Regions from separate parts of the Homo sapiens genome. Here regions 1 and 2 are each linked to region 3. The links come from fine-mapping of genetic effects on gene expression. A gene starts in region 3. Each other region holds a variant in brackets. All regions are shown on one strand. Distances are between the middles of the regions. Region 1 overlaps ERBB4 (erb-b2 receptor tyrosine kinase 4). Region 2 overlaps ERBB4 (erb-b2 receptor tyrosine kinase 4). Region 3 holds the start of ERBB4 (erb-b2 receptor tyrosine kinase 4).

What was found. PIP is the estimated chance that this variant, and not a neighbour inherited with it, causes the effect.
Region 1: its variant is the best candidate, but not a certain one, in a credible set for the expression of ERBB4 in tibial nerve (GTEx, PIP 0.69).
Region 2: its variant is the best candidate, but not a certain one, in a credible set for the expression of ERBB4 in lung (TOPMed, PIP 0.52).

What each region holds. Positions count from the first base shown.
Region 1 is chr2:212,452,802-212,455,567 of GRCh38, reverse strand. The region is part of intron 1 of ERBB4 (erb-b2 receptor tyrosine kinase 4); the gene reads left to right. Among named protein-coding and RNA genes, the nearest start is that of MIR548F2, 28 kb to the right of the region's middle. The variant G/A (reference allele first, on the strand shown) is at 1,502.
Region 2 is chr2:212,117,148-212,119,913 of GRCh38, reverse strand. The region is part of intron 2 of ERBB4 (erb-b2 receptor tyrosine kinase 4); the gene reads left to right. Among named protein-coding and RNA genes, the nearest start is that of MIR548F2, 310 kb to the left of the region's middle. The variant CT/T (reference allele first, on the strand shown) is at 1,353.
Region 3 is chr2:212,537,098-212,539,863 of GRCh38, reverse strand. It overlaps ERBB4 (erb-b2 receptor tyrosine kinase 4), which reads left to right and starts at 1,062. Exons shown (of 28, transcript NM_005235.3): 1 at 1,062-1,415. The coding sequence starts at 1,334. RefSeq lists an enhancer at 2,031-2,531.

The DNA.
Region 1 (2,766 bases), 84 kb after region 3:
TTTTTTAAGGTGAAGGAATTTAGAGTGTCAAAATAAAATATTCAGTTTCTCATTCAGTTTTTTACTTGCCACATTTTGCATGCTCAACAGCCATGTGGCTAGTGGCTACCATATTGGACAATGCAGAGAGAATATTTTCATCATTGCAGAAAGTTCTACTGGCTAACTCAGGGCTAGAGGCTGCTACTGACACTGAGAAAACGATAAGATTAGGAGGGTGATGCATATTCATACATGAGATCACCTAATGAGAGAATGGAAAGAAGCATAATAGGTGATTGAATGATTGAAGCCTTACATCCTGGGAGGCACCTAGGTGTTAAAAATAACCCCTTGAAGGTGATCAGGTTGTTGGAAAGGTGGGAGAAAAATGAGAAAATAGCATCATGTAAACAAAAGTCTCTACTGTTTCTTGAATGGAAAAAGGTAATGAAGTCCTCAATTCAAATACAGCAGCAAGGTCCATTAAGTTATGACTTAGCCCCCAAAGGTGGGAAGATGGAGAATTTCTCACGACCTATTTGATTTGGATCAAATTCGTCATGCTAAATGAATATTACATCTTAATATCATAATAATATTGACACTTTGCATTCTGTTTTATAATGTGTGTCACACATTGTTTTCCCTAAAATGAAGTGAGGTGGCGGTCATTTCTCCTGAGTTTTATTAAAAGAAGAAGAATAAAAAAAAAACCTAAAGGAACTGTAGAATCAAGCTGGTTTTCACAAAAATTGAGTCCAACTGCTTCACTTTGTTGATGTGGAAACAGACCTAGAGTGAAAGTGATTTAACTACCTATACAGTTGATGTGCTCTCCACAATACTTGATTACATTGGTCCTATTTGCTGCTCTTACTCCTAGCACTGGAGGAAATATAAATTTAATAGATTGTGATTATGTCTACTAGAAGTGAAAATTTTGATTAATGAAGAGTTCTCATAATAGACTTATGGGAATCATTAAGCTATTTTAGAACAGATAAAATATTATTTATTGCAGAAATAATTTTCATTTTTCCACAGGAGCTCACAAATCAAAAGTTTTCATATTATTATAGAGATTCTAACAAAGTCTGTGGTTTATGCATAAATACTCTCCTCTGAAATATATCAAGTGCAGAGGTGGGAAAACCCACAGATAATAGCTAGCTTTTAAAATTGGCATTTTCATGCTAAGCATTCATTGAGTCTTTCAATATGACAGCATGTTTTGGGTTGTGTGAAAGAGAAATTGTCTTAAATTAGTCTGTCTTCTCAGTGGAAAAGAAGACAAATTGCCAACTTCCTAGTGCGTCACCACAGTAAGTTATAGAAGTTAAGGAATATAGCCAGGCATGGTGGCTCATGCCTGTAATTCCAACACTTTGGGAGGCCGAGGCGGGTAGACCATGAGGTCAGGAGTTTGAGACCAGCCTGGCCAACATAGTGAAACCCCATCTCTACTAAAAATACAAAAATTAGCTGGGCATGGTGGTGCATGCCTGTAGTCCCAGCTACT[G/A]GGGAGGCTGAGGCAGGAGAATCGCTTGAACCTGGGAGGTGAAGGTTGCAGTGAGCTGAGATCGCACCACTGCATTCCAGCTTGGGCAATAGAGTGAGACTTTGTCTAAAAAAAAAAAAAAAGTTAAGGAATATAGTATTGTTTCTGTTTATATATGGAAGATTTGCAATTCATGCACCCAGTGATTCTGGAAAGAAAAGAGAAAATACTTTTTCTAGTACTCTTTGTCAAAGATGTCTGACAGGTTGATAAAACTACGTTTAAATATGTTAAACATGATTAAAATCTGTAGTCCTACATTCTCATTTCATGATTTCTTTTAGCAATGTGTAACTAACATTTCTATGGTAACTAGGTAAAATGATTTTAAAATTTTAAAATAACAACAATAACAAAAGACCCTGGTGTAATAATCATATGGAAACATTAAAAAGCATACCTCGTTTGCTATACAAAGAGGTGACAAGTTGCTTAACACAAATCTCACAAAAACAAAAGAAATTAACCTAATATCAAATTTTGGTAGATATCAATGCAATATATTTAAATAAGAACCCTATTTAAACAAAAAACAAAACACTGAACCTAACAAGTGCAATGTTGATCATGTGTTATTTGTTTTGGAAATTCTCTTACTTGTTCTATCAATGAGTACAATTGCTAGATATAGCTTGGGTGCATTCTTGAATATCTCCATTTTTGAAGGCAGAAGGAGTTTGTATCACTTCTGTCTGCCTTTGAGCATCTCTTTTTGTCCCATGGACCTTAAATGGGAAATCAATGTAGGTCTTTCTTTACAAAGTAGACTTGCAAGGGTTAGAGTCTATATGCGGAGGGGGTAAGGGGAAGATATAAGAAGCAACACCTATAGAGTTATATGCTTGATACTTGATTATCATCATATAACATTTTTATAGTCAGAAAATCCTCATAACAATCCTGTGGGTATGTAGATATAATCCCTGTTTTCTAGTTGAAAAGAAGTATTTGACTAGTCGAGTGATTTGCCCCAAGTTATACAACTTTAAAATGTCAGAGCAAGAGTTTGAACATGTTTTATCTCATTGTAGGGTCTATTTGTTCCAGTAAGATAAATTAACAAATGTTAACAGAGAACTAAATTTTTCTATTAGAAATTATACAGTTTTGAGAACTATATTAGTAATGCTACCTTTTACATTTCCTTGAATGGAAATAATTGTAGTATGTCTTAAAATATTTATGTTTTAAAAACAAATTTTAACTTTTTATCTCTTATTTTAATA
Region 2 (2,766 bases), 420 kb after region 3:
ATTGAATTGAAGATGCACTTTTAAATAATTTTAATGTTTTGTAGATACTTTCCTTAATCTTTGTTAGATACATTTTGTTGAAATGCTTTTAAATGCATTCTTTTCAAGACGCTTTTATTACAGCAATCTTGATGCTTATCTCTGTAAACACCTTTCATGCCAGCTTTCTTCTGACCTCCAGTTCTTGCATTTCTTTTTGGGAAGAGAAATCCAGTTTACTATGTTTAACATTCAACTACCAAGGAACCACATTGCTGGCTAGAAAAAGGCCCTAAAACTTATTTATTATGTATTTTATCACCATCACAAGGTTAAGACATATAATAGAAAGCAGCGAGGCATAAAAATCACAGATTTTGTGCTATTGTCTTACACTTTGTGAACTCTTTAAAACAAGGCAAAATGTAGTAAGTAATGGGAATGAACTATTAGACCTTTTACCCTCATTAGAATTCTTGGGAGCTTTCTCTCCTTTGTCATTCCATTGGTCTTCTTTGCTACTGCTGGCACTTAATAACTCAGTGCTTCTAAAAAGGTGCCTGACCCACCAGCTTTTACATTTTAAATTTATTTTCTGTTTTATATATTAACTTTAAGCAAATAACTATAATGTGTCAATTATGTGTAAAGAAGTATACTATGAAATGTAGATCATATAGTGAGTGTTAACACCTATCCTCAGTCATTGCTATAACGGGTAATAATTTTTAATCTGTGGCTTGAATTTAGTTGTGTGCAAATTATTTTAGAAATAGTATACATTAAGATTATAAGGAGATGAATTTATTTAACAGTTGATGCATGGATGTGGAATAGTTACAATATCGTAATTCATTGGAACTCCTTATGCTGTAGTCTAGAAACCTTAAATTTTAATCATTATACATGTCTTTTATTTCTAATAAATGAATAAAAATAAAGTAATATATAAAGATGCCTTTTAAGATAACATTAATACTCTATTATTGATAGTAAAAGGCAATGACTTTGAAAAAGTCAGAAAGTATAGTTTTTTGAAGCAAAAAGATTAAAAAAGATAACTTCTCTCAGATAATGAATAACAAATGCATGTTATTATGAAAAGGTAACACATTTGAAAAACATAATTTGCTTTTATATATATTTGGCAGAGCTATATGGCTGTTTTTGAATGTACAAGAAATAATGCCATCTAAAAATTTCTATTTTTTTTTAAAAAAACTTTGGAGAAATCATGCAAATAGTTTATTTTTCTCTACCAGAGAAAATGTCCTATTTTTAAATTCAAATATAGCCTTTGTCTTTAGTTAATAATTAACATTTTATAATGCTATGGAATTGTCATCCTCTTTTATTAGGATATGTATGGGATT[CT/T]TCTGAGGATGTTGCTTTTCAACTACTCTTCGTAAGACATAAAATTTGCATTACTTTTCCACTGCTAGTAAAGGATCTATACTATTTCATTCTCTTTCTCATGAATATTCCTCTTCTGACCAATGACAAACATTTGTAGGAAGGCAGAGAAAGCTGCAACTCAGACAGCAAAACACTGCCAATCTTACTGCAGCCAAAGACTTTGGCTTCATTAGCACAGTTTTGTTACAATAAAGTCAGGAGTGATGTTTGACAATGAGTTTCAAGTTGCAACAAGTAACCATGTCTTGATCTATTCCTTCCCTGTTTTCAGTAAGGATGAACAACCATTGAGAGTTAATATGAAATTCTAAAATATTTACGTTTAGCCTACTTCTAGCTTTAGTGCTTCCTTTTCATTGTCCTCTGGCAATTAGAAGCACATGACCAGAATTAAATCCAACAGTGTGGGGGATGGTTTTTATGTTTGTGTCTGTTTTCCATATCTTCCTCATGTACTTTTAACTCTGTGTCCGGGCTAAGCTGTCTGCTGCATAGCATGATTTAGAAAAACCCTACATTGAAGAGTACATATTTCAAAATAAATAGATAATTTATACAGTACTTATTATTTTGAGTTAGAAAATGATTTACTGAATAGTTTGTTCAAATACTAGCTACCAACACCCATCTATATTTATTTTTAGCTTATTAAATACCAGATAGAATGACTTGTGTGGCAGAAATTATGTTGGAGAGAGAGAATCAGGATGAGAAAACTTGTCATATTTTAGAAACATTAGAGAGGAAAACACCATTTAAATTAAACATCTATGACATAACAAAGTGGGTCCACATGAATTACAATCTCATATTTCCCAAAAAAGATGATTTAAGTGCAACATTTTCAGATACAGCATGCATATTTCAGTTATGCACACATTTTGATCTGACTGTATAGTTCCTACTATACAAGCCTGAATTTGTATTCCTGATAAACTTTGTAAGATAATGAAGTGGTATATTTGTCACTCAAAAGGTGAACAAGTAAATGAGAATTCTGTATCAAGCATTTGTAATCTGTAAGTATCTATTCATTGAGCACAGTAGTCTATGTTTTTCTTCCATGTCACTAATTGAGACAGGTGGCAAGAGAGGATTACAAGATCAACATTGAAATACCTAGACTTCGCCATCATTAGATTCAAGGAAACTGTACCTTCAAGAAACTATTGGTTGGGTAAACAAGCATTAAAAAAGAGATGGTGATGGAACTTTTTCTTTAATTCTTTCTGTTTTAATTTCATGTAAAATTGCTTTTGTGGTAAAATGTTACATATTTAGATACTGCATTAACATGATGACCTCTTAGCAGGGTGAGATAAAGAATGCTAAAAAGGACACAGAGAGAATAATATTGTAACATGTCATTTA
Region 3 (2,766 bases):
TTATAAATGTGAAAGTTTAGTTTGGCTCAATGTTGGTCAGTTTAGAAATGTGGGAGTAATCGGAGAGATGGCATAACTGGGGGCGGGAGGCGGGGCGGTGATTATACCCCTACCACTACCTAATCCTCAGGGGCTACCAGTTACTTGCTGTACACACTTTTAAAGTACTTTCTAATTGTGGACCATGAGTGGCAGAGTACTGCGGGCGGAGGCTTTTTGCTGAAAGCAACATTGACTTTTATTTCTAGGGAAAGTCTTGTCTGTAGATGAGCACCGTGGGGCAACGGAGAAAATGCTGACTTTCTTGTTTAAAAAAAAAAAAAATTTCCGTAAGCGGCCCTCCAATGGTCCGTCCACTCAGCAGGCCAGCTGTCCCAGGCCTCTGCCAGGGAGGGAAGACGAGTGCTTCAGTGCATGGCTTCGGTGAGCCCTTTAAATCCAGCTTCCCCTGCCCCCACCAAGAGGCTCCCTTTCCCTGACAGGTGTTTTCCCAACTCCGGAGGCCCAGGATTTTGGGGAGTGGCTGAGCCAATAAGATTTCCCTTTGGAAGGGGGGGGGAAGGGCGTGGCTAGTTGGGTCAGAGCATGGGCGGGGTTTGCGCGGCTGAGCAGAGCCGGCCTGGTTGCGTGGAGGGTTGTTTTATTCCCACCGCCCCCCGCACCTTTTTTTTTTTTTTTTCTGGAGTCTTATTAATTTCTCTGTGGGCTGCAGCTGGAGACCGCGGAGCGCTGGAAATGACGCTCGGAGCTTTAATTACCGCAGCCGCCGGACAAGTGTGAGGAAAGCTGAGAGGAAAAAGAAGGACGGGATCCGGGGAGAAGCGAGAAGCTCCCCCCGCCCCGCTCCCCTCCCGATTTGGACTGGAGGTGCAAGGAAACTGAAGAAGGAGCAGAACATAGCCCGGCTGCGGGGAGAGGCCGGAAACCTACCGCCTCTTTGCAATCAACTTTTTTTGGAAACCTTTCGCCCCCCTTCCTTTTTTATTGTTGACCAACCAGTGAGAGAGAGAGAAAGTGAGGAGGGAGCGAGCAAGCGAAGGCTCACGCGGGGAAATAGCTGCACAGTCCGGCCCAGAGCGCCAAGCGCACACACCGAGCACACTCCCACACGCGCACACACGCGCTCACACTCGCCCCCTCCTCGGGCCCCGGCCCTGGACCCGCGGGCGCGGACTCGGTCGCCCGCCCTGGGAGTCGCCACACCGCGCGCGCCGCGCCCGCCCCCCTCGCACCCCCACGCGCGCCCGGCTGGGGGATCTCCTCCGCGTGCCCGAAAGGGGGATATGCCATTTGGACATGTAATTGTCAGCACGGGATCTGAGACTTCCAAAAAATGAAGCCGGCGACAGGACTTTGGGTCTGGGTGAGCCTTCTCGTGGCGGCGGGGACCGTCCAGCCCAGCGATTCTCAGTCAGGTGGGTTCCTTCTGGCACTCCGGTCGCCGAACCTGCAGCCGCCGGCGGGGCTGCCTCGAGTGGCTCCCCTGCCCTCTTCACCCATCCCGGGAGGCGTGGAGGGACCGCTTGACCGGGGCCTCTTCCCTGGGCTTTCGGTCACCCCTCTTTCCATTTGAAACTTACCCTGTATGTGTGCGTTTGCTTTATTTATCGTGAAAAATCACTCTGAGTCCCTCTTTTCTCTCCTTAACCCCCTGCTTTTCTTTCCCGAGCGTTTTGTTTGGGAGCCTAAGCGGGATCCCTTCTGGTGGCGCCTGTTGTTCGGGACATGGGAGACCCAAATCCCCAGTCAGAGGAGACTCTTCTGTCCCTGTCGGGTCCCCGAGGGCAGAACCCGCACCGCCGGGGCCGCGGTCCTGGGGCGGTGCTGGCTGGGCCTCTCCCGAGCCGAGCCCGAAGGGCGGTGGAGAGCGGCGCTCAGAAAATCGGGCTTTGCACCTGTGTGTGCTGCTGGCGACCGCTGCGCCCCCAGTCGCCCGAGCCTTGTGGCGTCAGACGCAACTCGCGCCCAGCCCGGGCAGCCGGAGTGCAGCAGGCGGGCGCGCCTCGGTCCGGGGCCCGGAGTTCTGGGCCTCTTCCGCCGGCTTCCCGGAGCCCTCTCCCCATTGACTTGAGGGGCGCTTACTCGCCTGCCTGACCTCTTAAAAAAAAAAAAAAAGGCTTGGCACACTTGAGCCAGAAGCCCGGCCTTCCCGTCGGTTGCCGTGTTTGGCTCCGGGAAGAGTTCTTCCTGTAGTTCAACTTGCTATTGGCCGGAGTCCTTCAAACTTGTCTGTTTACTGCCCGGCCAGGCTGCCGAGCCTGCGGGTCACTGGATCCACCCGAGGCGAAAGCGGCAGCGGCGATGGGTGCGCGGCCACTGCTTGCTGGAGAGCTCGAGCCCCAGGTACCTGGGCAGGCAAAGGGCTAATTGACCCCGAGAGGCAGCGCGGCGGGGCTGGCCCGCCACGGCTTGCAGGACTAATGACAGCACCTGCAGTGCAATGGAGCTCAAAGTTTCTGACACTAGAGTTTCCTGGGGATGAAAGTGGGACGGGAGAGGTCTGAGGAGGACCGGTGTCTTGACGTGGCCAAGGGGTGCCTTTTGGAGAGCCAGAGAGATTTCCGAAACCATCCAGGGATGGTGACTGGAGCGTGGGAAGTAGCTTGAGGTGATAAAGCCCCCGGGAGTGGCGATAGGGAGCGCTTTAGGCCCCCGGAGGGTGTCCTTCTGACCTCACCAAGAAAACGGCTAGCTGTAGTTTTCCCGCTCCGCCGCCGCCGCCGCCGCCGCCTCCTTTGCCTAGTAAATAACAAGTTACAATTATCG